Linked DNA regions of Homo sapiens: regions 1 and 2 are each linked to region 3. Evidence: fine-mapped expression QTL. A gene starts in region 3. Each other region holds a variant in brackets. All regions are shown on one strand. Distances are between the middles of the regions.

Evidence for each region. PIP is the estimated chance that this variant, and not a neighbour inherited with it, causes the effect.
Region 1: its variant is the best candidate, but not a certain one, in a credible set for the expression of RBM23 in neutrophils (CEDAR, PIP 0.56).
Region 2: its variant is the best candidate, but not a certain one, in a credible set for the expression of RBM23 in tibial nerve (GTEx, PIP 0.51).

Annotation. Positions count from the first base shown.
Region 1 is chr14:22,891,428-22,899,605 of GRCh38, forward strand. It overlaps RBM23 (RNA binding motif protein 23), which reads right to left. Exons shown (of 14, transcript NM_001077351.2): 14 at 1,777-8,178. Among named protein-coding and RNA genes, the nearest start is that of REM2, 12 kb to the left of the region's middle. The variant G/A (reference allele first, on the strand shown) is at 3,470.
Region 2 is chr14:23,017,635-23,025,812 of GRCh38, forward strand. No RefSeq gene overlaps it. Among named protein-coding and RNA genes, the nearest start is that of C14orf93, 12 kb to the left of the region's middle. RefSeq lists an enhancer at 7,483-7,572. The variant G/T (reference allele first, on the strand shown) is at 4,665.
Region 3 is chr14:22,914,650-22,922,821 of GRCh38, forward strand. RBM23 (RNA binding motif protein 23) reads right to left here and starts at 4,500. Exons shown (of 14, transcript NM_001077351.2): 1 at 4,350-4,500. It overlaps PRMT5 (protein arginine methyltransferase 5), which reads right to left. Exons shown (of 17, transcript NM_006109.5): 14 at 8,093-8,172; 15 at 7,794-7,910; 16 at 7,527-7,591; 17 at 5,880-6,407. The coding sequence ends at 6,255. It overlaps PRMT5-AS1 (PRMT5 antisense RNA 1), which reads left to right and starts at 4,807. Exons shown (of 2, transcript NR_120600.1): 1 at 4,807-6,471. RefSeq lists enhancers at 2,552-3,316, 3,805-3,974, 4,045-4,154, 4,245-4,314 and a silencer at 4,575-4,874.

The DNA of each region.
Region 1 (8,178 bases), 23 kb before region 3:
TCAGCCTCCCGAGTAGCTGGGATTACAGGCATGTGCCACCACACCCGGCCACTTTTGTATTTTTGGTAGAGATGGGGTTTCTCCATGTTGGTCAGGCTGGTCTCAAACTCCCAACCTCAGGTGATCCGCCTGCCTCAGCCTCCCAAAGTGCTGAGATTACAGGCCTGAGCCACCGCGTCCAGCCTGTATGCCCTTTTTCTACCTTTGGAAATTTTTTTTTTTTTTTTTGAGACAGAGTCTTGCTCTGTTGCCCAGGCTGGAGTGCAGTGTGGCACAATCTCAGCTCACTGCAAACTCCACCTCCTGGGTTCAAGCGATTCTCCTGCCTCAGTCTCCCGAGTAGCTGGGATTACAGGTGCCCACCACCACGCCCAGCTAATTTTTGTATTTTTAGTAGAGACGGGGGTTTCACCATCTTGGCCAGGCTAGTCTTGAACTCCTGACCTCATGATCCACCCACCTCAGCCTCCCAAAGTGCTGGGATTACAGGCGTGAGCCACCGCGCCTGGCCTACCTTTGGAACTTTTAACTGTGTCATTTAGTACCACTTCAAAAATGAAACGAAATAGGCCGGGCACAGTGGTTCACGCCTGTAATCCCAGCACTTTGGGAGGCCAAGGCCGGTGGATCATGAGGTCAGGAGTTCAAGACCAGCCTGGCCAAGATAGCGAAACCCCATCTCTACTAAAAACTACAAAAATTAATCAGGCGCAGGGGTGGGCACCTGTAATCCCAGCTATTCGGGAGGCTGAATCGCTTGAACCTGGGTGGCAGAGGTTGCAGTGAGCTGAGATCATGCCACTGCACTCCAGCCTGGCGACAGAGAGAGACTCCGTCTCAAAAAAAAAAAAAGAAAGAAACAAAATAATTTAAAACAAAGCCTTAGGGGTCCAGAGAAAGAAGAGGGAACAAGGAGATCCTGGGGATATATAGATGGAGAAGGTGGAGAAGCAGCTGCCAAAGAGGTAGTGGGAGAACTAGGATTGAGCCTGTTGTGACTGCTGCCAGAGGAGGGGTTTCTAGGAGAGTATCACCAATGGTCAGATGTGGCCAGAGAGGAGGATGAGGAACAAGAAAGGCCCAGTGCCTTTTACGTGGCAGAAGCTTAAAACATGTCTTTCGTGTATGGAAGACCATGATGGCAAGACCTCCCCCACGAGGGGAGCCACACACCATGAGCCTCCCTCCCCCAACTCAGCCAGTCCCATCAGCCCGACCCATCTGTGTGTTCCCTCCAGACGCCTACAGGGAATAGCTCAGAACAGACGGAAGCTGAAGCCAGGCTCCCGCCAGACTTGGGAGAGGTGAGGCCTTCTCTGAGAGCCAGGCCATTCTCTCTTTCTCTCTCAAGGCAAAGTAGAGCCATTGATCTTGGCTGGGGTGAGAGGTCAGCAGAGGGCACTGGGACCTGAGCTGCCATGCCAGGTAAGGTCCTTTCTGTCCTCATGCATCTCTTAACCACTGCAATTTTGTCTTGGAGTCCGTGTTCCCTTACCAGCCCCTGCCCAGCCCCTGCTACTCCCACTCCCCTTTGCCCACAAGACCGCCTCATTGGCCCAGAGCATAGACTTTGTGTGCTCTCCCCTGAGGGTCAGAGGAACGGGGGAGTCCTGCATCTGGAAATTTTTCCACTCTGGGCCTCTGCCTACAGATGAGCTTTTAGGCCGTGCTGCATCTGAGCCCTCTAGAGAGACTGGAACAGGGGCTCTTCTCTTCTGAAAGACTGCCGGGGTCATACGTGGAAGTCCTCTGGGTTAAACCCTCACTCCCAGGAAGTTCACACACACACATCTTTTTATTAATCTAATATAGTTTCAATCCACATCAATCTAAGTAAATTTTCCTGGACATTTTAATCTTTCATCCACAAATGCTAGAAGACATTTTGTTTCTCTCAAGTACTAAACATCTGCAATATGCCAATCAGTGTGCCGGGCCCAATGGGGAAAACAAATACAAATAAGACACAATTTCTGCCCGTCAAATAGCTTGCAATTAAGCTGGGGAGATGGATGAGGTGATACAGCACAAAACAGGCAAAATAGCAGCAAACAATACCACATTCTATCTAACTGGGGGCTACCTCATGTGCTCCAGGAATTCTGAATGGAAGAAACAGTAAATTTGGAAGACATATTTTAGAAACTGGGCCTTAAAGGATATGTAGGCTATAGATAGTTGAGAGAAAGAAGGAAAAGCATTCCTTGTGGTCAAACTACATGAGCAAATGCACAGAGAAGAAACAGTGGGCAGCCCACCACATGAGGAAAAGGCCCTTCCTATAAAGAAGGCAGCAAAATTTGGGTGGATGGTGCAGTCGTCAAAGGACACAAATGCCGGACAAGAGCATACTGCTTCTCAGGCCTTTATCATCTCGGTGACTCCCTGATGGATATGCTTAAGGTCCCTTTTCATCTATTTGAATATTGATGTCAAGTTTCCACAGCTTAGTGGCCTTGAAAACTCCAGATGTGAATGCAAATTCAGTAAGCCCTTGAATGCTTTTCAATTAGTGCTCAGGATGTTTCCTGGATGGGGGTCTGTGGATGAAGTCACTCTTAACCTGTCTGGTTTGCTGAACTCAGCTATGCTATCCCAACTCTAAAATGAAGAATACCTACCTTATAGCGAAGTCATGAGGACTAAATAAAAGAGCAAAGATCTTTGTAATTTCTCAAGCATTATACAGAGAAGCGGTGGAAGTAGTAATGCCTTTTGCAACCTATGTCCTGGCCCTTTATTTAGGCATCAAAGCAGCTTGCTAAACTCTCAAAGCACAGCACCATTTGGAGATAAAAATTTAAGTTATGGTCTACAAAGTCCAACGTGCCTTCCATAGGACTCACGGGTAACACTTTTTTGGGTTTTGTCATCTGATGGAAGGTTGGGGGACAGATTGGCAATTGAAGCTCCACGATGGTATTTTACTGCATGATTTTCCATTTTTGTGTTCAAATTACAACTTGACTTTAAGCAGAGGACCTGTGCTGATTTAAAATACTTACTCAGGTCGGGCAATTGGCTCACGCCTGTAATCCCAGCACTTTGGGAGGCCGAGGTGGGTGGATCACTTGAGGTCAAGAGAGAGACCAGCCTGGCCAACATGGTGAAACCCTATTTCTACTAAAAAAAATTACAAAAATTAGCCAGGCATGGTGGTGGGTGCCTGTAATTCCAGCTACTCGGGAGGCTGAGGTGGGAGAATCACTTGAACCCGGGAAGCAGAGGTTGAAGTGAGCAGAGATCGCAGTGAGCAGAGATCATGCCACTGCACTCCAGCCTGGGTGATAGCATGAGACTCTGTCTCAGAAAAATACATAAATAAGGCCCAGCCGGGCGCAGTGGCTCACGCCTGTAATCCCAGCACTCTGGGAGGCCGAGGCGAGCGGATCACTAGGTCAGGAGATCGAAACCATCCTGGCTAAAACAGTGAAACCCCATCTCTACTAAAAAATACAAAAAATTAGCC[G/A]GGCATAGTGGCAGGTGCCTGTAGTCCCAGCTACTTGGGAGGCTGAGGCAGGAGAATGGCATGAACCTGGGAGGCAGAGCTTGCAGTGACCCGAGATTGCGCCACTGCACTCCAGCCTGGGCGACAAAGCAAGACTCCATCTCAAAAAAAATTAATTAATTAATTAAAAATAAATAAATAAGGCCCAGTGCAGTGGCTCAGGACTGTAATCCCAGCACTTTGGGAGGCCAAGGCGGGTGGATCACCTGAGGTCAGGAGTTCGAGACCAGCCTGACCAACATGGAGAAACCCTGTCTCCACTAAAAATACAAAATTAGCTGGGAGTGGTGGCGCACGCCTGTAATCCCAGCTACTCAGGAGGCTGAGGCAGGAGAATCACTTGAACCCAGGAAGCAGAGGTTGCGGTGAGCCGAGATCGCACCATTGCACTCCAGCCTGGGCAACAAAAGCGAAACTCCATCTCAAAGAAAAAATAAAAATAAATAAATAAAAAAAATACTTATTCAGAAAGGAAAATGCCAGTGTAGGGCTAGGCTCTGGAGACCAACAAAGACAGGTGCTTGGGGGAGGCTGAGACGCTAAGGAAAGGGTGGTAACAGAGGGTGCTCTCAGGCAGTTGTGGTGGCTCACACCTATAATCCTAGCACTTTGGGAGGCTAAGGAGGGAGGATCACTTAAGCCCAGGAGTTCAAGACCACCTGGGCAACATAGCAAGACCCCATCTCTACAAAAAATACAAAACTTAGCTGGGCATAGTGGCACATACCTGTAGTTCCAGCTAATCAAGAGGATCATTTGAGCTCAGGAGGTTGAGACTGCAGTGAGCTGTGATGGCACCACTGTACTCCAGCATGGGCAACAGAGCCAGACCCTGTCTCAAAACAAAACAAAACTGAGTGCCCTGGTATTTTTCCCCTGCCAGACAAAGCTAATGGTGTTAGGTACCTTGAAGGTACCTGTGAGGGGGGCTCATTTTGATTTTTCGAAACCATCTGGTTAAAATCTAACTATGTGGACAGAGCCTCAAGCATAAAGAGATTGGGCTAGTGGGATCTGTTTTCCTGAAAACTAGGCAGGTTGTGTGTGACCCAAGACCTTGTAAGCTTGGGGCTTCAGTGCAGGAACAATTTATTTATTTAAAAATGAAGATTTATTTTCACCATTGCACTGCCCTTGCTTTTCCCCATAAACCTTGAGCTCTAAAGTTGGGGAGAATGAAGTCAGCTAGAAAATCAAGTGAGTAGGCATCCAGAGGAGTGAAAATACTGAGGACAGTAATGAGCCAAGTTCCAAACCTTTCTCAATGAATTCTCACAACATCCCTATGAGATAGGTGTTATCATTTCCTTTTTACAGATGAAGTGTGAGAGAAGTGAAGTAACCTACCCAAGCTTATTCAGCTAGTTTGTGAGGGAAGAGGGATCTGAACCATGCTGTGTGGTTCCAGAGTGTGACACTCGGCTACAGGGTGGAGGTCCCCTAGCTTGCTTATGCTCAGGAGTTGAGGAGGCGAATTCTTAGCACCACTAATTCTAAGCAAGTAGGCTTCCTGATGCCTGAAAGCTGACTGAAACTCCCATCCTTTCTGGAACATTGGCAAGTTTGACGGGTCTCCGATTTCCAAGGTCATTGTTTCTCCTTTCTACAATCCGGCACTGACTGGCTGCTTTCCAGTCTTCAGGCACCTCATCCATCTACCCATTGCTCTCAAAAATAACTGCTTAATGGCTCTCCAGAAACTCCAGCCAACTCCTTAAGGGCTCTTGAGAGCAGATCATCTGAACAACTAATAGACTTCATCCAACTTTTTGAAGTGATCTTTGCTCAGCTCTTTCCTTGCACCCACCTTCCCACGTGATCTAAGTTGGTTGGTCTGCTTCACCTCACTTTCACAGAGCTCTCTCAACCAAGGGCACACCAGAGAGCAAACCAGTCCTGGATATAAAGCGCAAAAGTTATGAGAGAGGGGAAAGGATGTCTGAAGCTAGAAGATTCAGATATGCAGCTTCTCAGACCGGAATTCCTTTCCTGCATCCAGCTCGTGACTATTGCCTTCACCTGGTTGCCATGGAAACATCAGTCTCTGGTGGATGGCAAGCAGCACTTTAGAAAGAAAGTATCACAGGCTACCATGGTAACATCAGAAAGAGTAAAGCTGCATCTTCTCTCCTGGTGGAGTGAGGAAGGAATGGATGAGGCTGCTGGGAAAAGCAGCCTAGAAGGGGCAGCCTTTGGAAAGCCTGGTGCTGACTTTAACACTTTAATGAACAGCATTCATTCAATTCTACAGACATTTAATATGTGCAAGGCAAAGCAATCATGAGAAAGACATCCAAGTCTGGCCTCATCAGGCTGTAACCATCAAGTAATGGAGTTTTCAATAAAATAATTTTTATTGCAATTATTTTATTTACTAAATAAAAGTAGAGTAAGATGACCCACAAGAGGACAAAGAATACTGAAAAGAGAGATCAACTCCACCTAGGAAAGCTTCAGGGTCTTAAAGGACAGGACTTTGATCAGCAGAAGGAGGAAAGGAAGAGAGATAGCTGGCAGGTTAGATCACTCCCATGCCTCCTAGCAAGATGCTGAGCCTACAGTAGGTCTGGCCTCAAGCTGCTTCAAGATAAGGTCTGAGGCTGGCTTCTCAATGCACATGCCCATGCTATCTCCCAGGGCCCTTGTAGCAGAAAGAGCACCTTCAAGGTTCACCCACAAACACTGTCACTCAAGATAAGCAAAGACATGGCAGTGGAAAAATTCTGAGTCTACGGAGAGCTATGGGTACAGGGATAGGAAAAGTGACACTTCCTCACTGACTCCAAGGCCTTGTCTTCCATGGTGGTGCTGAGAGGCAGGTAAGGTTAAGATCAAGGGATCTGAAGCGAGAGTACTTGGATTGGAATCCCTAACTTGCTAACTTTGTGCTTATGGGGAAAATTATTTAACTTATTTGGATATGTTTCCTTGTTTACAAAGTAAAGATAATAAACTACTTGAGAGGATTGTTGTGAGGATTTTGTGACTTAATACACGATTAGAACACCTAACCTACAACCAACCTTGCATAAATGTTAACAATGACCATTATGCCACCTCCTGTCACCTCACCTTTCAGAGTCTCTTTTCACTGTCCAAGTGTTGCTGCCTGATTTTCACTAAAGCCTTTCCATTACACGGAAAAGAGGGACTGTGATATAATTCCATCCTTCAGGTTTTTACTCAATTCCCTTCATGATATGCTCCAGGACTAAAAGTTCACAGGTCAAGCCTCTGCTTCTACTGGTAACTCCTATCTGGGGGTTGTTGGGAGTCTGAGGAAGCAGGCAGAATTCCTGTGTCAAGAGCACAGCAGTTTAAAGAACAGGGAGGAAATGCTGCCACCTTAGTGAATACAGAAGCATAGACTGGAAGTCAAAAATCAGGTGAGAATCTTTTCTAGAACTGAAGACTGGTAGGGAAATTCTAACTATGCTGGCAAAGGATCTAGATCACAATGTCACCCCTACGCCACCAGCCACCATGTGCAGGTAGATGTTGAGGGAAGTTTCTTTTACCTTAAGCTGGGCCCAGAGTCTGTTCACAGCCCGCTTCTCTCCACTCTAACCACCTCGTATGGAGGGATGAGTAACAAGAAGGCACTGAGTCACACACGGACAGCAACTGTCACTCACTAGATACCATCACCTTATATGGAGTAAGACTGGAAATTGTCTTAGATACGTCCTTACTTCCAACATTGTCTCTCTCCCAGCAAGAGGCTATGTGAGGAACTAAGAACAAGAAAGAACTGAGGTGGAAGGATCCGAGTGTAGGAAGGCCAAGGTAGCTAGGGATGGAAACATAAGGAAACCAAGCAGAGGAAGGCAGGGAGGCAAGGCCTGTGGATATTTATAATAGTCTGAAGGAGCCAAGCCAGCCATGAGAAGACCCAGTTCATGGCCTCAGGATGACTAACAAAAACGGTACCCACTGCACTTCTCAAGATACATTAGAAGCCAAATCAATAACTGTAGGGGTGCTGGGTCATAGCCAGCAGCTTCTACCTAAAAATAGTGCATCCTCCTTCCCTTTTCCCCCGGTCCAGAAAGCAAACTAGGATAAGATGGGGGAAGGGATGGGGGTGGTAACCAGGAGAACAGCAACATCATGTGAGATCTAGGCCTGGAAGAATCAGAAATGCTGTGGTTTGAATGTGTCCCCCAAAAGTTCACATTGGAAATTTGACTCCCAATGCAACAGTGTTGAAGATGGGGCTTAATACGAGGTGACTGAGTCACAAGGACAGAGCCCTCATGAGTGGATTAATGTCACTATCACACAGCAGGTTATCATGAGAGAGGGCTGTTATAAAGCAAGTTTGGCCCATGGTCCCTTTGTCTCATGTACTCATTTCTACCTTGTGCCCTTCTGACATGGGATGACCCCCACCTGATGCAGGCACCATGCTCTTGAAATTCCCAGCCTCCAGAACTGTGAGAAATACACTTTTCTGTTTTTTTGAGATGGAGGCTCGCTCTGTTGCCCAGGCTGGAGTGCAGTGGTGCATCCTCGGCTCACTGCAACCTCCGCCTCCCAGGCTCAAGCGATTCTCCTGTCTCAGCCTCCTGAGTAGCTGGGATTACAGGCACCCACCACCATGCCCAGCTACTTTTTGTATTTCTAGTAGAGACAGAGTTTCACCATGTTGGCCAGGCTGGTCTTGAACT
Region 2 (8,178 bases), 100 kb after region 3:
CCCTATGTTGCCCCGGCTGGTCTCAAACTCCTGGGCTCAAGGGATCCTCCTGCCTTGGCCTCCCCAAATGCTGGAATTATAGGCATGAGCCACCACATCAGGGCCAAGGTTAAACATTTTTAGCGAGAATATTACTTAGGTAATTTTATATACTTCTTATTGTATCACATCAAGAGGCATATAATGTCAGTTTGTTCTATTATTGGTGACTGCAAGTTTATTCATGTCTGCTAGACGTCTCTGTTGTAGAAGTATATTTGCCATTTGTAATTAATTAGTAAACTAATAATAAATAGAGTGATTGTTATGGGCTGAAATGTGTTCCCCTAAAACTTATATACTGAAGCCCTAACCTCCAGTACCTCAGGATTCGACTGTATTTGGAGACTGAGTCTTTAAAGAAGTGATTAAGTTAAATGAGGCACTTAGGGTAGAGCCAGTCTGACTGGTGTCCTTATAAGAAGAGGGAATTTGGACACAAAGAGATACCTGTGGTGCACAGAGGAAAGACCATGTGAGGATACAGTGAGAAGGCAGCTCTCTGCAAGCCAAGGGGACTGAGGCTTCAGAAGAAATCAACACTGCTGATACTTTGATCTTGGACCTACAGCCTCCAGAACTGGGAGAAAGTAATTTCTGTTGTTTAAGCCACTCAGACTATGGTGTTTTGTTATAGCAGCCTTAGCAAACTAATACAGTGATTATCTTAGATAATGTGAATATCCTGTTCTTCCACAACCTTGCACCTTCCTATTTTTGCATTGGGGTTTGCCAAATGGTGATTTTTCAAATTCTGTTATTTCTTCTACATATAATAGCTGGCATCTATCTACTCATTTTTCTCCTCTTTGCCTTCTTCATTATCTTCTTTACATTTATGTTATTTCTTTTTTTTTGAGATGGAGTGTCGCTCTGTCGCCCAGGCTAGAGTGCAGTGGTGTCAAAAAGAAAAAAAAAAAGTCCCAAAAAAACAAAAAAGACCATCCTGGCTAACACGGTGAAACCCCGTCTCTACTAAAAAATACAAAAAAAACAAAAATTAGCGGGCATGGTGGCGGGCGCCTGTAGCCCCAGCTACTGGGAAGGCTGAGGCAGGAGAATGGCGTGAACCTGGGAGGCAGAGATTGCAGTGAGCCGAGATTGCGCCAATGTTGCCTGGGCGACAGAGCGAGACTCTGTCTCAAAAAAAAAAAAAAGAAATTCACAAAACAAGTAATTTTAATTTGTCTTAATTTTAAAAATTAATATACGTTTCATAGTTTTTTTGTTTTTGTTTTTGTTTTTTTGTTTTTTTGAGACAGAGTTTCACTCTTTCACCCAGGCTGGAACGAAGTGGTACAATCTTGGTTCACTGCAACCTCTGCCCCCTAGGTTTAAGTGATTCTCCTGCCTCAGCCTCTGAGTAGCTGGGATTACAGGCGCATGCCACCACACCTGGCTGATTTTTGTATTTTTAATAGAGACAGAGTTTCATCACCATATTGGCCAGGCTGGTTTTAACTCCTGAATTTAGGTGATCCACCTGCCTTGGCCTCCCAAAGCACTAGGATTATAGCCATGAGCCACCGTGCCTGGCCCATAGTATGTTTAAGAGCAGCAAAGGGCATCTTAAAATTAAACAATATGGGAGTCACAGTGCTAAGAAGGGTAGGAACCACTGGCAAAATGACACCATAGTGAAATCATTCATTAATTTTTTTTTTTTTTTTTTTTTTTGAGATGAAGTCTCGCTCTTGTTCCCCAGGCTGGAGTGCAATGGCGCAATCTCGGCTCACTGCAACCTCCACATCCCAGGTTCAAGCGATTCTCCTGCCTCAGGCTCCCGAGTAGCTGGGACTACAGGTGCCTGCCACCACGCCTGGCTAATTTTTGTATTTTTAGTAGAGACGAGGTTTCACCGTGTTGGCCAGGCTGGTCTTTTTTTTTTTTTTTTTTTTTTGAGACGGAGTCTCGCTGTCGTCCAGGCCAGACTGCAGTGGCGCTATCTCTGCTTACTGCAACCTCCGCCTCCCGGGTTCTCGCCATTCTCCTGCCTCAGCCTCCCGAGTAGCTGGGACTACAGGCGCCTGCCACCATGCCCGGCTAATTTTTTTTTGTATTTTTAGTAGAGATGGGGTTTCACTGTGTTAGCCAGGCTGGTCTCGATCTCCTGACCTCAGGTGATCCGCCTGCCTCGGCCTCCCAAAGTGCTGGGATTACAGGCGTGAGCCACCGCGCCTGGCAATCATTCATTAATTCTGTATTTTTTTTTTTTTTGTAGTGGAGTCTTGCTCTGTTGCCCAGGCTGGAGTATAGTGGCTAGTGGAATCTCTGCTCAGTGCAGCCTGCGCTGCAGTTCAAGTGATTCTCTTGCCTCAGCCTCCCAAGTAGCTGGGATTACGGGTGCACACCACCACACCCAGCTAATTTTTGTATTTTAGTAGAGACAGAGTTTCACCACGTTGGCCAGGCTGGCCTCGAACTCCTGACCTCAAGTGATCCACCCACCTCGGCCTCCCAAAGTGTTAGGATTACAGGCGTCAGCTAATGCACCTAGCCTCATTAATTCATTTATTAAAAGTACATTTATTATATATCTTTCCTGAGTAGCCAACAGCATGCTAGACACTGTGGGGGAACAAGTAAAAACTACACTATAGTGCTTAACTGAAAAAGCAGGCAGACATGCCAGGAAACAACCAGAGACACTACATAGATGCTGTTTGATGTGGCACATGCCTAAGGCTGTTTTTTGATTTGTTTTGTTTTGTTTGAGACAGGGTCTAACTCTGTCACCCAGGCTGGAGTGCAGTGGTGCGATCACAGCTCCCTGCAGCCTCATGTCCCAGGTTCAAGTGATCCTTTTGCTTCAGCCTCCTGAGGAGCTGGTACTAGAGGTATGTACCACCACACCTGGCTAAATTTTAATATCTTTTGTAGAGATGGGGGTCTCATTATTTTGCCCAGATGGTCTTGAACTCCTGAGCTCAAGTGATCCTCCCACCTTGGCCTCCCAAAGTGTTGGGATTATAGGTGTGAACCATGGCACCTGGCCCTAAGGCTGTTTAAATGAGATGTAGAACAGTGCTGACCCCTAGCCAAGGACCGCACTTGGATTGATCCACCTTTATGCATTTTTCCTCTTTAGGAGGTGCTTGGAAATGCAGGACTATGCTGAATATGTTGTGTTGGTTTAAAATGCTCCATTGCTTTCTTTTCTAAAGACTAAGCTATGAGCGCAAACTCAAGACTCAAGGGAGACATGGTGATTATGAGCCCTCCCACATAACCATGGTGCTCAGAGGATTCCCTCTAATCAGACAATACCACACATCACCGCTGGAGATAAGCTGCTGTGAAAAAAAGCCTGTGTATTGTGTGAAACTCTGTATGCATGGGGAGGCTTAGAGTGCATAGGTGTCTCTGGGATAGTGATGGTGTTGAGGCTAGAATGAGAAAAGAGCTGCGGTCGTGCAAAAACATCCCCTCTACCTTGGTGCCTTGTAGGCTACACCTACTTCTATTTGGACCTACTTATTTCTCGTCTTACCTGACATGTGCTATTCCTCAGTCTTCCTGGGAGGTAGTGGCTTCCCTCTCCTGACTTAGGCACCCTAGGCCCTGATCTGCAGGCATGTTTGCAGAAAAGAGGATGAGTTATGTGTGTATGATGTGTGTTGCCAGGGAGTATGGAGGTGTGGGGAGAGAAGGCTTCTTAGTGAACCTAAAAACAAATTTTCGAAGGTACTGGATCTGTGATCCTGCCTCACTCACCCTGTTACTTTTACGACACAGGTTTCTAATTTTCTGTCTTCGGCCTGGCTGGATTGAGATGGGGGTTGTGAGAGCCCAAACCTTCTTTCCAACCTCGCATAAGTGGTGTAGACATGGAGAGATTCTTGCAGAATTTAAGTGACTGTGACAGTACAGGGGCAACACACAGAGAGGCACGTGTTCATTACGTATGGCTGGAGAAATTATCTGTCTCCAGGGGGACATGTTTCACTGTGCATTAGCTTCGAGCCGCTTCCTTCCTCCCTGTTTTTCTGCCCACTCTCTCTATCACTGTCCTTCTTAGTCTCCTTTCCCACTCCCTGTCTGCCCCCATTCACAGTCCAGCTCTGCCTGTCAATATCTCCATCCATCTTTCTCTGCCACGTTCACATCTCCCTCTGCACTTTGCTCAATCTCGCGCTTGCTGTCTGGGAGTCGCTTTTGTTTGTCTCTGGTTTGTCTCTTGTTCTCTCTAGTTCACTTTCTGCCATTCCATCTGTTTTCCTCTATAATACCAGCTTTTTGGGTACCCTGCAGTTAATGATAACCTTTTCTTGTTACAGTAAAGCCTATAAGCAGCCCTTGGTTTATTGATTGATTGGTTTTTATTTAAACTCTGCAAAGGAAAGAGAATTTTTATAAAGTGAGAGAGCAGAGAGAAAACATGGAACGAGGCAAAGGGAGGAACAGCCTAAGATGGGGCCGGGGATAAGTAATGGGAAGCATCAGAACGTGTCGAACCCATGGTGTCTTATTTCTTTTCAAATAAACTGGGTCATATCTTTATGGCTGATGACAGCTTAATCTGGACCATAAAGAGTTAAATACCAGCTTAAGCTTGGCACCTAACTCAGAGGCAAAAGCTTCTGGGAGAAATGAGTTGGGTCAAATAAGCCCAAGAAGCTGACGTG[G/T]GTAGAATTTCTTCTGCTTGACCCACTAACAACTGCAAAGGGGACATTTTAGAAATGTTTTTTATTGAAATGCTTCAGTGGGGGCAGAGCTCCTGGAAACCAGAACTTGGCTCTGAAGCCACGCCTGGGGAGCACGGGAGGCTGACTTGGGGGGAAAAAGAGGGGTGGCCCAGGTCAGGTAGAAGGTGGCAGCAGCTGCTGATCAGGGCAGTTCTGATTGCTGTTTGAGCTCCCTCTTGCCCACTATAATTAAAGCATTCCCAGTATGATTCTGGCTTCCTGAAGGGAAACTAGAATTTATAAAAACAAACAAGAAACAAACGCAAAACAGCAGAGGTGCTTGGTTGCAATATATGTATATTTTAAATTATAGAGCACTGCTCTATACTCCATACAGTTTCAAAGTCCGTATCTGTTATAGCCCTGGGAGCAGGTCAGGGGAAGATCTAACAAAAGAAACAAAAATAAAAGAAAATTAAAAACCTAAATGTATCCACCGAAAATTAGATATGGTCATGTAGATTCTCTCCTAACCCAATCATCCTATCCTTGTTACTCCTGACACAAGGGAAATGCTCCCCTCAAAATTTCCATCCACCTTTTTTTTTCTACTTTATTCTCTTTTCATCCCACCTCTTTCTTCCTTCCCCTAACAGACCACATAGAATCCGTGGGCCAGAATAAATCAGTTATTTTATTTCCCCTCGGAGGATGTGACCTTCCACTCCCCAAATGGCTCTGACAGTTTTCTCATTTGCTAGCTGAGGAGGATATCAAGAGACACTGACCTTCTGGTTTTGCCTAAAGAGGAACACTCAGTAACTATTATCCTTCAGTCTTTGATTTGCGTTAACTGTGCCCTTCCTCCCTCCTCCCCCACATCCTCACCTACCTTTTCACCTTCCTTCATGAACATTCTACTCACCCCACAGTGCACTGCTACTCCCCACAGCCCTCCCTTGCCTGGTGTGCAGATGCTGGAAGGCTAGCAAGAGAAAGCAAGGGGCCTCCAGGAGTATTTGCTCCCTATTTAATCAGATTAGTCCCATCACCTACCCCGAGGAGCCAGATTTTGGTGTTACTGAGTTATCTGTTGAGGGAAGAGAAGTTGTCAGACATCACTTAAAGAGCCCAGTCCCTTGGACGCCTGGGAACTGCTGAGAGAAATTAATCTTCCAGCTATTTAAGGCGATTTCTTTTCCATCATCCTTTGTCAAGAGGACTGTACTGGGAAATGAATCTGATGGGAGTCCCTGAACTGGTACACTCCACTCAAAAACATCTCTCCAATCCTATGCGGCATCCATCATTCCCACACAAGCGGAGACACACATCGCTGCAAAGCCAATTTCCCCCCAGTAACCATCAGCAAGAAATCACAAATGCACAGGGTGGATACCACTAGCCTACAGACTTGCAGTTTTTCCCTACCTCTGCTCTACTTTCTTCCCAGAAAAACCTACCACAAATCGAGCTCTTCCATTAAATGAGTCTTTTACCCAAGACCCAGGAAGGTAGATCAACAGGGATATGCCAGAACAGAACATGCATTTTCTCTTCTAACATAAGGACTCTGCCAGTGCAGAATAGGTGTTTCCGTTAAACAGCTAAACCACTGCCAAAGCAAAGTGTGAGACAGAAACAGGGCAAAGGGTTGCATTGTTTCACGATCATCTCTTCTCTCCAGAATGAATTTTCTGTTCATGGACCAAAGCTGGGGTCTTATGCTCTCTGGGGTCATGTAAGGAAATTCCAATCTTCAATTCTCTTTCTATCCTTAAGGCTATTTCCCAGGGAAGAGGTGTTCAAATTGTGTTCCTTGAGGTTCCAAGAAGTGCCAGGGACTGTGTATGTGTATGGGGCTAACAAAGGGTGCTGCGGGGAGTGGCTGGATGGGGAAGCTCAATAGTGGAGGCTCTGGACCTCTCAGCTCAATTTCAACCTCTGATTTTTTTTTCAGGCATTGGGATTTCTCCTAAGAGTGCTTTTTTTTTTTTCTTTTTTTTTTTTAAGATCTGCAAACCAATGTCCTAAGTGGGAGGAAGATGACCTACCTGTGCTTCTCACGCAGCTAACCATTTCCCAACAGTCTACGAGAAGGAAGATGTAGCTTGGGTCCTGCCTATTTCTTTCTTTCTTTTTTTTTTTAGATGGAGTTTTGCTTTTGTTGCCCAGGCTGGAGTGCAATGGCACCATCTCGGCTCACTGCAACCTCTGCCTCAGCCTCCCAAGTAGCTGGGATTACAGGTGCCTGCCACCACACCCAGCTAATTTTTCGTATTTTTAGTAGAGACAGGTTTCACCATGTTGGCCAGACTGGTCTCAAACTCCTGGCATCAAGTGATCTGCCTGCCTCCGTCTCCCAAAGTGCTGGTGCTGGGATTACAAGCCTGAGCCACTGTGCCCCGCCCAGCTCCTGCCTATTTCAACCATGTAGTCTGAGTCCACACCAGCAGCTCCCTGACTGCAGGGGCTCCTGAGATACTTTCCTGCAAAAAATTTCCTTAGGCACGAGTCATTTGTTTTCCAAACCCCCTTCTCCGATTTCACTAATTCCCAATTTCCCTGCATTTGACAAATGCAATTAACAAGCCTCGATCAGTTCCTGGCCGACAGCCCTCATCAATCAATACGAAGACTGCACAAGGCTGAGGGGGAAGGGAAGGTAGCTGCAGTACAGGAGAGGAGGGTTTACCCCCTCTTCTTCTGTGAATGACTTCTCCAAACCTCTCAGTCTCAAAACATGACACTGGGTTGTCACCTTCACCAACCACTTTCTGCCTTCTGACTAAATACAAGGTGGTATTGTTTGTGTCCTCCGCTCCCATTTTTTAAAGGTTTCTCCCATCAACCTCCTCTATCCCCTGTCTTCTCTTTAACAGAAGGCCTTGCCATCTGCTGCCACCATAGCTTGGGAACTCCCCCCAGCCCCAACAGTGCTGGGTGTGATAAATCAGCCATCTCTCTGCTCTCAGCAGGGCCTCTTCCCCACCCACACATTCCAGTGACAATTTAGTGCTGCTTCCTGACCAGGAGGCTATAAAATCACCATCACTACCCTCTCCCCTCCACACATATGCACTGGAGGACCAAAAGGACAAGGGTCACCAAGCTTGTGGTTACTACTGCTTTCACAGCCACTTCTTTGTCCTCCCCTTCCCAGGGTCCAAGCCTTCCCTTCCCAGTTGGTTTAAGAGTCAAGATTTACCCTCTTCACCCTTCCGCTCTGCATGTAGCCTCAGCCTCCCTTCCCCCACCACAGGGTGACAGCCTTTTCCGCTGGAGCCCTGCCTGGTACAGCCCTGTGCATCTTTCCACCTCATCAACTTTTCATCTCTTTGTAAACCAAATCGAGAAGTGTCTCCCTCCTCCCTGCCTCTCTCTCCTTCTCCGTTATTAGCTTCATGAGTGGGGACATTAATGTATTCACTAGACAATGTCTTCACACCACTGTTTCCTGTAATTACAGTCACTTCCCTTCCACTGTCCTGGCTTATTTGACTGAAAAGTGCTT
Region 3 (8,172 bases):
ATGCAAGGAGGCTATCATAATCAGACTTTTTCATAACTGTAAGAACTTTGTTGGCCAGCCGTGGTGGCTCACCCTGTAATCCCAGTACTTTGGGAGGCCAAGGTGGGTGGATCACCTGAGGTCAGGAGTTCAATACCAGCCTGACGGATATGGTGAAACCTCATCCCCATTAAAGACACAAAAATTAGCCGGGCATGGTGGTGGGCGCCTGTAGTCCCAGCTACTCAAGAGGCTAAGACAGGAGAATCGCTTGAACCTGGGAGGCAGAGGTTGCAGTGAGCCGAGATCACACCACTGCACTCCAGCCTGGGTGTAAGATGGAGTAAGACTCCATCTCAAAAAAAAAAAAAAAAAAGAGGAACTTTGTCCTCTTTAAAGCAGCTAATGCACTATGCAACAATGCTGCCTTGGTTGCCCTAAGAGTCCATATCCTATTTTGACAATTAAATAAGTGTAATAATTACAACTATGATTCTATGACTTACAGTACCTACAACTGCTAGACACTGTGCTAAGCATGTTATGGAGAGAGAAGATTCTTAGAGAAAAATTACTTGGAGCCAAATTTAAGGCTTAAATGGAAATTAAACCCAAATCAAATTGGTATACATAAAAACCAGTAAACTCAATTGCCTCTGCCTCCCAGGTTCAAGCAACTCTCCTGCCTCAGCCTCCTGAGTAGCTGGGATTACAGGCATGCGCCACCACATCCAGCTAATTTTGTATTTTTAGTAGAGACCAGGTTTTCCGTGTTAGTCAGGCTGGTCTCGAACTCTCGACCTCAGGTGATCCGACCGCCTCGCCCTCCCAAAGTGCTGGGATTACAGGCATAAGCCCCATGCCTGGCTTTTTTTTTTTTTTTTTGAGAAGGAGTCTAGCTCTGTTGTCCAGGCTGGAGTGCGGTGGCACAATCTCAGTTCACGCCAACCTCTGCCTCCCAGGTTCAAGCGATTCTCCTGCCTCAGCCTCCTGAGTAGCTGGGATTACAGGTGCCCGCCACTACGTCCCACTAATTTTTGTATTTTTAGTAGAGACAAAGTTTCACCATGTTGGCCAGGCTGGTCTCAAACTCCTGACCTCAGGTAATCCGCCTGCCTCGGCCTCCCAGTGCTGGGATTACAGGCATGAGCCACTGTGCCCGGCCTTCTACTTCTTCCAGTAACACTTTATATTTATTTAGCAATCAAAGGTAACAAATGCTGCAGACAGGTAATATATGATTCATACCCAAATTTTTTAAAACTAACGTTTTTTGAACTGCTCAAAGTCATACATAGCTCAAGGGCCAGGCAGAGGGGGTGGCTCACGCCTGCAATCTCAGCACTTTGGGAAGCTAAGGCTGGAGAATGGCTTGAGGCCAAGTCAAAATCAGCCTGGGCAATACAGTGAGGCCCCATTTTTACAAAAAATATAAAAATTAGCCACGCATGGTGGTGCGTGCCTGTAGTCCCAACTACTCAGGAGCCTGAAATGGAAGGATCGCTTGAACCCAGGAAGTTGAGGCTGCAGTGAACTGTGATCATGCCGCTGCAATCCAGTCTGTGCAGCAGATTGAGATTCTGTCTCAATCCCCAAAACAGAGAAGGTCACACAGCTCAAAGGGAAGAATGTTTTTTTTTTTTTTTGAGACAGGATTTCACTCTGTTGCCCAAGCTGGAGTGTAATGTTGCAATCTCGGCTCACTGCAACCTCTGCCTCTCTAGCTCAAGCAATCCTCTAACCTCAGCTTCCCCAGTAGCTGGGACCACAGGTGTGCACTATGATGCCAGGCTAACTTTTCATATTTTGGGCTTTTTTTTTTTTTCTGGTAGAGACATGGTCTCACTATGTTGCCCAGGCTGGTCTCAAACTCCCGGACTCAACAGATCCACCCACCTTAGCCTCCCAAAGTACTAGGATTACATCTGGCCAGAGGAGCTAATTCTTGATCAGAAAGGTTTTCTGACTTCAAATCTAACATTATATCTATTATATCAGATTACTTCTCATATGGTTTGTAATTAACTTTAAAGGAAAAAAAAAAGGACACAGTATACCAAGATACCTACTTTTAAATATATACTCACTGAACATGAATGTTCTTCTCATATGTTTATCAAAATAATCAGTCCCATTAGCTAAACCTCATTGTGAGTCTCCTATATCTGAGGCATGTACAGTGTATGCTTAAAGGTATTAGACTAATATACACTATGGGAAAATAGTTCTAAAAAGAAAAGTTTGTTTTTGTTTTTTTTTGAGAGAGTTTCACTCTTGTTGCCCAGGATGGAGTGCAATGGCGCAATCTCGGCTCACTGCGACCTCCACCTCCCAGGTTCAAGCAATTCTCCTGTCTCAGTCTCCCAAGTAGCTGGGATTACAGGCAGGCACCACCACACCTGGCTAATGTTGTATTTTTAGCAGAGACGGGGTTTCTCCACATTGGTCAGGCTGGTCTCGAACTCCTGACCTCAGGTGATCCGCCTGCCTGGTCCTCCCAAAGGGCTGGGATTACAGACATGAGCCACCGAGCCCGGCCTAAAAAGAAAAGTTTTTTATACTCAAGCTGTTTCAGTCATTTTTGCTGCCAAGTCTACACAAATTTTCTGTTATGAACTATTTTTTACAATCTGCTTTTTCCCCTCCAAATGAAATGCTTGATTTCAAGAACTGCTCATTGTTGAGTGCTAATGCGGGGTAAGAACAACTTAACACACACACTAAAACTTACACTTAAGTTTACAAGCCTCTACAAATAAACCTCTACGTAAAAAGTTTTCACTCAGAAACAAATATATCCGTTTAAGCAAAGCCATATACAACACAATATTTTGAAACTTGCAATCTCACTGGGTTTAGTGTCTTTCTAGATGTGCTAAAAGCAATAAGGTAGCAAACACTATGCATTTTCAGGCTGGTAGTTTTTTCTTTTTTCTTCTTTTTTGTTTTTTTTTTGTATTTTTAGTAGAGACGGGGTTTCGCCGTGTTAGCCAGGATGGTCGCGATCTCCTGACCTCGTGATCCGCCCGCCTCGGCCACCCAAAGTGCTGGGATTACAGGCGTGAGCCACTGCACCCGGCCCAGGTTGGTAGTTTTCAAACGCTCTCTTCATGTCCCAACTTATGGGTCAAGGTCCACTCAATCTCATCCACATAGAGTATGTTTTCTTCCATCCTGCTCCAAAAACAGTATTAGAGACCCACAATCACGTCAGTTCCTAGACCTCGTCATAGCACAAGCCAACAGATAGACCCCACTGCTAAAGGAGCAGAGAGAACCACTGTCAGACCAATTCGGGAAGAATTCACGAAAAGCTGGAGCCCCAGGGGTGATGGTAGCGCCATCCCCAGGGTCTGATCACTTAGCTGGGCACAAACACCTACAAACTGAAGGCAGCTTAACAAAAGAGGAACAATGAGAACGATAAAAGCTACTTGAAGGACCACCCTCCCCATGTTGTGTAGCTTTAAAAAATGGTCCTATAGGCCGGGCGCGGTGGCTCACGCCTGTAATCCCAGCACTTTGGGAGGCCGAGGCGGGTGGATCACCTGAGGTCAGGAGTTCGAGGTCAGCCTGGCTAACATGGCAAAACCCCATCTCTATTAAAAATACAAAAATTAGCCGGGCGTTGTGGCAGGCGCCTGTAATCCCAGCTACTCGGGAGGCTGAGGCAGGGGAATCGCTAGAACCCGGGAGACAGGATGCAGTGAGCCGAGATCGCGCCACTCCACTCCAGCCTGGGTGACAAAGCGACACTCCGCCTTAAAAAAATAAAAAAAAAGAGGTCCTATAGGCAACCAACTGGCACAATCTCTGCGGGAGCCAGTGTCCCAGGGCTCAATCTTCATATGTGGCATCATAATACGCCTACTGGAATGAGTGCTTGAAAAAGTTAAATGGGAAAAGCCCATAAAGGTCAACATAGTGAACATGAATCTTCGACAGACTAGAGATTGAGGAAGAAAGCTCAATTCCCTTCTCTCTCTCTGAATGGTGGTGCGAGTGGCTGAAACTGATGATGCGTGTCCTCTCAGGCCGCGGAGGGTCGATGCTCCCTCTCCAGTGTGGGCGACCCTAAGTGTCACGGCTGCAGAGACCCGGAAAGAAAAATCACAGGATTCTAGAAACCGCATCTTTATCGGTGCAAGATACAGCCACGAGGGTGCCCAACTCTAAAATCGTGGCAGTGGGCTACATTTAAGTAGCTAACACTTCCAGGTCAAAACAAACAAAGGTTTTTTTAATGTTAAAAGTTCGCCTGAATCTCTTCGTGACGCCATTTTCTGCCCGTGACGTCAGGGGGGAGGCGCCGTGCAGCAACGTCACGCATTGGTGACGTCTGGTGGGGACCGGGTTTTGGGGTTTCTCACCAGTTCCGGGTCCCCGCAGGGGGGTCCCGGTTCTCTCCGTTCCTTTGAGTATGTTGTGGGGAGTGGAGCTCGGATAGTTCCTAGAGTCTAGGCAAGAAAAGCAGCACTGCAGGTACAGAGCCTCCTCTTCCCGCAAAATGGCGGCAGCTCTGCCGTCTTCCAGAACCTTCCCCAATCTGCGCATGCGCCAAGACTCCCCGGCTTTGGAAATAACCTCACTGGTTTCGCGGCAACCGTCCAAAGTACAGGTTCTCATTGGCTAAAGTCCTAAGTATGGGTGGAGCAAACTCAAATGCGTCTTAGCAACCACCGAGTTCCCATTGATTGGCTAACCTCAGAGACTCCAGAAAATGGAAGCGTCCTTTGGTAGCCGCCCATCACTCTCTCATTGGTTAAATGACTTGCGGAGGGCGGGGAAAACGGGACTGAAAACGGGAGTGAAGAAGCCACCAACCCCACTCCTGGTGCTCGCGTAGACTAGACCAGTGCGATGGGCGGAGCCAACGAGGAGGCACAATTTACATCCTTGGCCGTCCCTACTCGGATTTGCTGAAGGAGTCACGTCGGTCGTTAAGGTTAAGCTTTGTAGAGAACAGCGGCGTTTGTTTAACGTCCGGGGATGCTGAACTCGAAATCCCCGTTCTGAGCCGGCTACCTAAACAACCTTCCCGACCACCTCTCCTGACCTCGGTGCTTGGGACCAGGGAAAAGCAGATCTTGCCACAGACTTGTCTTGGCCCACACTCTGCCCTATCGTCATGGCCTGCTCCCACAGGTCATAACTTCCGTTCAAATCAGTACCCCCACATTTCCCACTGCAAGGGTAAATTTGAAAGTTTCTCAGGTGACTCCTTGGATGTAGCAGTACTGAGTCCTCTAACCGGAAAGAAGGAACTGATGTCCACCCTCACTTTCCAGGGGCCTCCAGGAGCCCCTAGACACTTCTGTGGTCTACTGTAGCTACCAAAAATGTAGCTGGTTATAACATGGGGAGAGCCAGAGTCGGAGGACCTGACTTCCAATTCTGACTTGGATACTAATATCACATCATTGTACCCATTTCAAACTCCCCCTCTGTAAAATGGAAAATTGGACTAGATGATCTCTTAGGACTTCAAACTGTAACCCTGTGGTTTTATTCAAAAAAAACAGGTAGCTTCTTGCTGGAGATTCCTGGATGGATTCCAGTCTTCCCAAGAGGTAACAAAGGAGAGGTAACCAGTTGCCCGTGCAGTAGCTCAAGAATACAGAAGAGAAACTGGCTTCACTCACTATTCCATCTTTTTCCAAGGTGGCAAACTCTATGCCTCCTCCCCAGAGAAAAGCCTAACTGTAGGTTCTAATGGACAAGAGCTCACTGTAGCTGGTCAGAAAGGCCTATATCCAGGACTACAATAGTCATTGCTCAGCTTCCTAAGTAGGGAATACAACTAGGCCCCTTTGGGTCTTGGATAGGCTAAGAGGACAGATCTGAACATGCCTGGGTCTAAGTGAGGTGTGGGAAAATAGTGGCAGGGGGCAGCATGGTCGTGCAGTAAAGGGCTATAACTTTATTTGTATTTCCTCTTACACAAAACCATCAAAACAAGAACAGAAAAAGGCTGAAAATCCGTTCAAACCCCATGTTCTCAGGGATATTCCAGGGAGTTCTTGAGGCTGAGTGCGTAGCTTCAAATCCAGCACTAATTCCTCACCCCCTGGCCTGAGGTCTTCATAGATTGGTGGCTTGAGCCCTGCAATTAATTATAATCCCTTGCCCACCTTGATGTAAGGCAGGAAAGCAGATTGAAATGCTCCTCTCTGATGGGCAAGGGGAATCACAGCCCATAGATGTACTGCACCTTCTGTACTACAGGAGCAGAACCTGAAGCTGCTTCCAAGGCTCTGGACACTTGGCACGCAGGGCTAGAGGCCAATGGTATATGAGCGGCCTGTGGGGTTATGAATAGCAGAACAGACTGGTGCTGTCACAGCCCACTCATACCACACCTTCTTGGAATTGCTGCATCGCCAGAAACGCACACAGATGGTTTGGCCTTCACGTACCGTTATGGGCTGCTGTAAGAAGAAAGACAGGAAGGTTCAGGGTGAAGCTATGAATTATACATGGCAATGTATTAAGGTAGGTGTGGAGATAAAATGATAAACATGACAAGACTGTCCCAACCCTCATGAAAGTTATTTGAAGCCTATCAGAACACAAATAATCAAAGGTGTGGTGAGAGCTGTGAACATGTACAGAGTCAGAAAAACACCTATGAAAGGGAACACTAACCTAGTCTAGGAGATCAGAGAAAGTTTATCTCACAATAAAAATGTTTAAAGAAGACCTAGAAGATAGGTTAACTGTGTGAAGAGACAAGCAAAGAACTCTACAGGCAAGAGAAAGGCATGAAAGCCTGAGGTAGGAAAGAAGATAGACAATTAGAACAAAAAGAAGGTCCATAAGGCTGAAGCAGTGTAAGCAAGGGGACAGTAGCTGCAAAGGCAAGCAAACACTCGATCACATCAAGTCTTACAAGCAATGTCCCAGATTTTGACTTTTATCCTAAAGACAATGGGAAGGCATTGAAGAGTTTTAAGCAAAAAAGAGAGATAAGATCAGGCCAGGCGCGGTGGCTCACGCCTGTAATCCCAGCACTTTGGGAGGCTGAGGTGGGCGGATCATGAGGTCAGGAGATCGAGACCATCCTGGCTAACACGGTAAAACCCCGTCTCTACTAAAAATACAAGAATTAGCCGGGTGTGGTGGCTGGCACCTGTAATCTCAGCCTCAGGGAGGCTGAGGCAGGAGAATGGCATGAACCCGGGAGGCGGAGCTTGCAGTGAGCCGAAATTGTGCCACTGCACTCCAGCCTGGGCGACAGAGTGAGACTCCGTCTCTTTAAAAAAAAAAAAAAAAAAAAGACAGCAAGAGAGATAAGATCAAATTTGAGTTTTTAAAAGATGACTCTTGCTCAAAGTAGAGAACAGACAGAAGAGTAGCCAGAGTAGATGCGGGAAAGCCAGGCAGAAGGCCACTCCAAATACTCCCAACACCTACCACTGGGATCCAAGAGCATATGAAATCAGGAGAACATGAGTCATAGTCAACTATCTTCCTGGGAGAAGGAAAGAAGCACAACACCAAAGGCAAAGGTTACTGCTTAACTAGAGAGTCTTAAAAGCAGTTCCTACCTTAATAGGGAAGAGGATGGGAAACCATGAGAACATCCCAGGAGAGTGAGTCTCTGGACGGATACCTGTGTGGACAAAATAATGAAAAAACAGAGGTCTCCATGGCTGTGACTTTTGCCTATGCTGAAGAGGGTCTCTTCTCTAATCACACAAAGATCTCCATTCATTGAGCACTGGGCCCCCCATAAATCTAAATGACACATGTACATATAAGCTGCCCAGGAAGCACACCCTCATACTCTGCCATCTACTGCCATAGACACTCACTCAGAGTGATGTCCTGATAAAGCACAGTCTCAAAGTAGCCGGCAAAGCCATGTAGTACTGTGTTCACCTCCACAGGAAATTCCAAGGTGCAATAGCGGTTGTTGTCAATCATAGGATCTGTCAGGAAATAATTATGTGGGTGACAAGGGGCCAGAAGCTCTAGACAACTTGATAAAGCATGAGCAAGACCCAGGAAAGGAAGAGTAGATAAGGCAGACTAGGGACAGTAAGGGAAGAAAGCAGGAGGAAGGAAGAAGCCCGTACCCCTCTAGTCAGAGGACAGCCATAAAAGAACCTACCTCTGTTGGGATGGCTGAAGGTGAAACAGGGCTGGGGTGCAGAGAGCTGGTGGAAGTTGTGCAGCCGTACCACATAAGGC